Linked DNA regions of Homo sapiens: region 1 is linked to region 2. Evidence: fine-mapped expression QTL. A gene starts in region 2. The other region holds a variant in brackets. All regions are shown on one strand. Distances are from middle to middle. Region 1 overlaps FMO3 (flavin containing dimethylaniline monoxygenase 3). Region 2 holds the start of FMO3 (flavin containing dimethylaniline monoxygenase 3).

Evidence for each region.
Region 1: its variant is fine-mapped to the expression of FMO3 in stomach (GTEx, PIP 0.98). The same link has a PIP of 0.9 or more in transverse colon.

The regions. Positions count from the first base shown.
Region 1 is chr1:171,109,772-171,112,695 of GRCh38, reverse strand. FMO3 (flavin containing dimethylaniline monoxygenase 3) reads right to left here. Exons shown (of 9, transcript NM_001002294.3): 6 at 1,699-1,898. Among named protein-coding and RNA genes, the nearest start is that of MIR1295A, 9.4 kb to the right of the region's middle. The variant C/G (reference allele first, on the strand shown) is at 1,222.
Region 2 is chr1:171,089,392-171,092,315 of GRCh38, reverse strand. FMO3 (flavin containing dimethylaniline monoxygenase 3) reads right to left here and starts at 1,411. Exons shown (of 9, transcript NM_001002294.3): 1 at 1,335-1,411.

The DNA of each region.
Region 1 (2,924 bases), 20 kb before region 2:
CTGGCTCAACATTCTTCTACCAGAATGTCTAATAGGCATTCCAACTTTAATATGTCTAAAACTGAACTTCTGTTCCTCCTGCAGTTTTTCACATTTTAGTAAACGTCAATGTCATCCTTTTTCAAATATCTTGAAGACATTCTTACTCCCTCCTTGCTCTCTCATCCTCTATCCAGTCCACAGAAAATCCTATTTGGGTCGACCTTCAAGCTATCCAGAAATCTGCCCAATTCTGACCACTCACTGCTAACAATTTTGGTCCAGACCAACATCCCCTCTGATTCAGGTTTTTGAGAGTAGCTTTTTAACTGGTCCTTTCACTTCCTTCCTTGCCCTACCCTTACATTGAATGATGACCACAGCAGCCGATCAATCTCTGCAATGCTAATTTAGGTCTTGTAATTCATTTGCTCAGATGCCTGCTGTAGTTTCCCATTGCTTTCAGAGTAAAAGCCAGAGTCCTTACAATGATCTACAAGGCCCACGCCATCCAACAATTTTTATGTCTCTGGTTTTATCTCCTGGCATTCTCCCCTCATTCTCTTTTCTCAAGGAAGAGAAGCCCCATTGTTGTTTGTTGATCATGCCAGCCCTGCCCGTAAATGCCCTGGCTGTGTCCTCAGTCTGGAATACCCTTCCCCTGAGACCCTCATGGCTCATTCCCTCAACTCCTTCAGAGGTTTTCTTAAAAGTCTCCTCCCTGAGACATACTCTGAGGACTCTATTGGAAATTGTCCTGACAGCACTTGCCATTACCTTTATCTGCTTTGTTTTCTTCCCCAAAGCACACATCGCCATATGATCTTATGCTATTGTTTGTCTGTTTCCCACCACTTAGAATGTAGGTTCCATGAGGACAGGGATTTTTGCATGTTTTGTCCACTACTATATCCACAGGGCTAAACACAGGATGTGGCATATAATAAACGTGTAATAAATGTTTGTCAAATTAATGAATTCACTTTGATGAAAACAGCTCGTAACTTGGGTTTTTCACCTCTTGTCAAAGTCATTTCTTGTTATGTTACTGGCTTGGAGGACGTTATAGGAGAAGATGGGAAGGAGACTGAAGATGCAAGCATTGGTAAGTATGTGTTTAGTGAGAGGGGGTCCATTAAGGGGTGGGTGATGAAACGAAGAGGGAAAGGTAGGACATGAAACGTTCTCCTGATGTGCTTAACTTTGCCATTAAGTGACAGGTAGTAGAGCAAGTGGCCAAGA[C/G]TGAGAGGCTCTAGAATCAGCAGATCTGGGTTTGTTTTGAACGCTGCTTCTACTTCCTGGCTGTGGGACCTTAGTAAAGTTATTAACTACACTGAAACGCAGTTATCTCATCTCTAAAATGGAGATACTAGTAGAGCTCTCTTCATAATTGTAAGGATAAAATGAAATAATATATGCCAGAGCCTTAGCAGAGTCTTGCTAAATCTCTGACATGTATAAAATGCTTAAAAGAGGTTAACTTTGATTATCATTACTCCCGGGACTAATTCCTGAGGCATTATATAATTTTCCAGCTGTGTAAATATAGTAAGGAGGATTGCAAAATAGGAAATCACTCTTAATTTGTGCAGTTCTTTATCTTCTGATATATGAGTTGTGATTGCTAATACTTTGATTTGTTTTGGGCTTACAGGACATTAAGGGTTGTTGACACTGAACTAAAAGCCAGCAGGCATATCACGTTTAGCTCTGCATTACCCATTTAAAGGCATCAAGCCATAGTTTTCATGCTTGAATCTTGCATTCATCTGCTTCACGTACAACCAGTCAGAGATGGCTGTCGGTAAATTGTTCTTGAGGAAGGTTCCAAATCGAGTGACGAGCAGCATGTCCCAAGGATAACCATTGTCCCAGACCCGGCTCATCACCCAGGAGCCACTTCTGGAACTGATCATGACCTTAAAAAACACCAATTCAACCATGAAATTAGTGACCATTTGTAGTGGATATTCTGGTGAGCACCCCAGATCCCTCTTGAGGAATGGATCTATTACCCCAGCTGCAGAAAGTGGTGTCAGAAGACATCTCTCAGCTGTCAGTCCTTTTTGACCATTGCTTTGGCTGAAGAGAGGGGCCTCACCCAACATCTTCTACTCTTTCTGAGTTTCCTCCATCTAGTGACTGGTCAATGCGGGCGTATAAAGGCCCAGTCCCTCACCTCAAATTGGGGCAATGCCAAAGGACCATCCCAGCTTCAAAGTAAATGGAAGCTTCCTTCCCTTCCTGTGGAAGTATTGATCCTGAGAGTGTTCCCAAATAAACGTCTGAACTTTACATCTACATCTTAGGGTCAGCCACCCTGTCACAGTGCTGCAGGCAAATTTTCATATTTTAATCAATCTCTGCTACAGGTGACTAATAACTGAATTCTAGTCACGTTTTCCCTAGCACTTATCTAACTATTGCTGTCTACAAATAAGCAATTATGATCTCAAAATAGGCATTTTAAAGCAAAATGCCTGCTACTATCTGGAAAGAAGGTGAGAAATTTGGAATCAGAAAACCATACGCTCAAACGCTGGCTCTCCTACTTATTAATGATGTGATTTGAAAAAATTCCTTTAACTTCTCTAATCTTGTTCCCTCATTCCTAAAATGGAGAGAATCGAATTTGCCTCATCAAATTTGTGTAAGCGTTAATTCGATGTGATAAACTATGTCACATGGCTAACGTTACCTGGCAGATAGTATGTGCTCAGTAAATGTCAGTTTCCTTTCCTTCCCCTTCTGTTATGCTAATCCATAATAGTGTAGTTTTCAGGCTTTCTTTGTCTTTTTTAAAACCAATTTTTATATGCCATATCACTTCAAGGCATTTGTTATAAGAGGAACTAGACAAGAAGAGACTAAAGGAGTCCGGGCATGGTGGCTCACGCCTATAATCCCAGAATTTTGGGAGGCCTAGGTGGGCAGATCATCTGAGG
Region 2 (2,924 bases):
TTCAGGAGTTCCAGGCTGCAGTGAGCCGTGATTGTACCACTGCACTCCAGCCTGGGTGACAGAGTAAGACCTTGTCTCTAGAAAACAAATTCCTTTTAGTGATCTAACTACATTTTCATTTCTCTCTAATTTCTAAAGAGAAAGTTTTCTTCTGAAAAAAAAATAAGCACTTTGTTTTTAGTCATCAGCTCTCCAAAATTAAGAGACTGATGACCCAGCATACATATTTATCTTTTTTGCTTTTGGACTTTGTCATTTACTGTCTACCAAAAAGAGTAAGCAGAAGAAATAAAGATTCGCAACTAAAACACCTGTAGACACATCCACCCACCCACCCACATACATATGCCTGTATATGGGAATGAAGAAACACATATGTATATGTATACACACACACAGTCATACACACACACACACACACACGCAATCTGTATCTTCTTTTTACTTAGATACGGATAATGAGGAACAAGGTCTGAAGATGTCTGTATTTCAGTGTGCCAGGTAGTCACCCCTTCTCCCCATCAATAATGTACTTCACCTTCTCAATTAAAAAGACAAGTAAATGGTGCATACCTATAGTCCCAGCTACTCTGGGATTATATAGTCCTGTTGAGCTGGGGTATCGCTTGAGCCCAGGAGTTTGAGGCTGCAGTGAGCTATGGTTACAGCACTGCACTGTAGCCTAGGTGACAGAGTGAGACCTTCTCTCCGGGGGGTGTTGGGGAAAGAAGTCATGTTCTTACCTAAAAACAATTTTTTCCCACTACCTTCAGCGTCCATTCCCCTCTAAGAAAATTACGTTTCCTAACTTTTTTCTGTTCCTGACACTGTCTTTAGGCTCTACCACTACTTCTTTCACTACTTTTTTTTTTCTTTTTAGACAAAATCACATAGCTATGCAGGGAAATAGACTTGGATGATTAAACATCATGATCCGTGATTCCCAGAAACAAACAAACTGCCTGAATTATATCATTCTCATTCTAGCCATATTTGGTATAAAACTACAGCATGCTCCTTCTTCATTTACCCATCCCACCCTCAACCCTTTACTATATCACCTTTTATTCTTTTTCTTTTCTTTTTTTTTTTGAGACGGAGTTTCGCTTTTATCCAGGTTGGAGTACAATGGTGTGATCTCGGCTCACTGCAACCTCTGCCTCCCAGATTCAAGTGATTCTCCTGCCTCAGCCTCCCAAGTAGCTGGGATTACAGGCATGCACCACTACGCCTGGCTAATTTTTGTATCTTTGGTAGAGATTTGGTTTCACCATGTTGGTCAGGCTGGTCTCAAGCTCCTGACCTCAGGTGATCCACCCGCCTCAGCCTCCTACCTTTTTAATTTTCCTACCCGTTCTTTGTCTTCTTTTCTTCTGTGTGTCTACGTCCTGTCCAACCGTCTGGGCAGTTTGAAAGAGAAAATGTTCTAGTGAGCCTACATATTAGGAAGATTGTTGAAAAATGGGAGGAGCTGCTCTTAAAGAGATACTCATTTATTGGTCCTTGAATGGGTGAGCACACGCCAACCCTCTGTGATGGATGGGACTGTAGGCCAGTCTCCCATGGCCACCCAGTTTCTACTTTTCCTTTGATTATGGTAAACACAAGCTGCTGGTTATACTCTTGGACCCTTGGCCTGGGAGTCAAGTAGTTTCTCCCAGGTGACTTTGCAGTTCTGTACTCCATTTTATTATGTGTTATTTGAAAGTTTACCTTGTTTTCCTTATTCCTAGTTCTTTTGTGGGTAGCTCATAGTAGTCCTCCAAATACTGTAGAAACTTAGCTACTTAATTGAGATAGCCCAATAAGGAGGATGACTTTTCTCTGCTCTCTCTTTTCATGTCCTGTCTTGGAATTTTGGGGTCAAAGGCCTGTATTTCTCAAGCTTATATTTACTTGTTTCTGAGTACAGTGTGTGGTCACAGAAAAGATCAAAATTCCACAAATTGATCTATTAGTACCAGGAACCAGGTAAAATTAGTACCAGGTAAAATTATGTTGGCAGTTAGACAAAATAAACTGCACCTAACTCCCAGTCATGAAATATAGTAGAATTTCAAAAAAAGTTTTCCTATCAACTATATTTTGATGTCACTTAGAATTATAACATCTCACTCATTTTGTCTAGTTAACTCCTTCATTAAGCAAGTGATACTTAGTGTAAACTGGTATATGTCTAATTTTGAGGAATTACCCTTCATGCCTTTTGAAGACAGTAATCTTCATCTCTGAAGTGTGAGTATGAGAGATTCCAAATCACTTCTATAGCTCTGTGGCCTTGGGCAAATCACTTAACCTTTCCAATCGTTGATTTACTCATTAATAAAATAGGGATAACTACACTATTAATTCCTGTCTGGCTATTTTTTTTTTAACAAGGATTAGAGGATTAAAGGGTATGTACACATAAATACATGTATACATAGGTACATATAAAATGTGGCATGTAGTTAAAAATGAGCAAATGTGACTTGTAGATAAAAATTAAAAACAAGTCATAGGTTCATGAAATTTTCTAGGGCTGCAATTCAGACAACATGATTTTCTCTGCTCTCATTTTACATAGAACTTCTTTTCAGTTTTTAATGCTACATAAATAGAATTAAAATAATGCAAAGAAAAGATTGTGACTACTTCAGGAAGCAATACTACTCCTATAGCCTTATTCATTTAAAGATTGGCAGGACACACCCAATTCTACCTTGGCCTCCGATGTTTTATCTCTCTAGGAGGTGAAAAGGCCACCTATTCTTTGCTGTCCTTCACAAGAATGTATCTGAAGTCGACACATTTATTAGTCCTGTCTCTCTCTAGCCTATCCTTTGCTTGCCACAGCTTTCTGCAGAGCCCCTTTTTAAATCTTCAGAATCTCAAATGCCCAGGCTCTGGTTGGGGCAGTGGGCATTCTCTACTCTGTTGTCCCC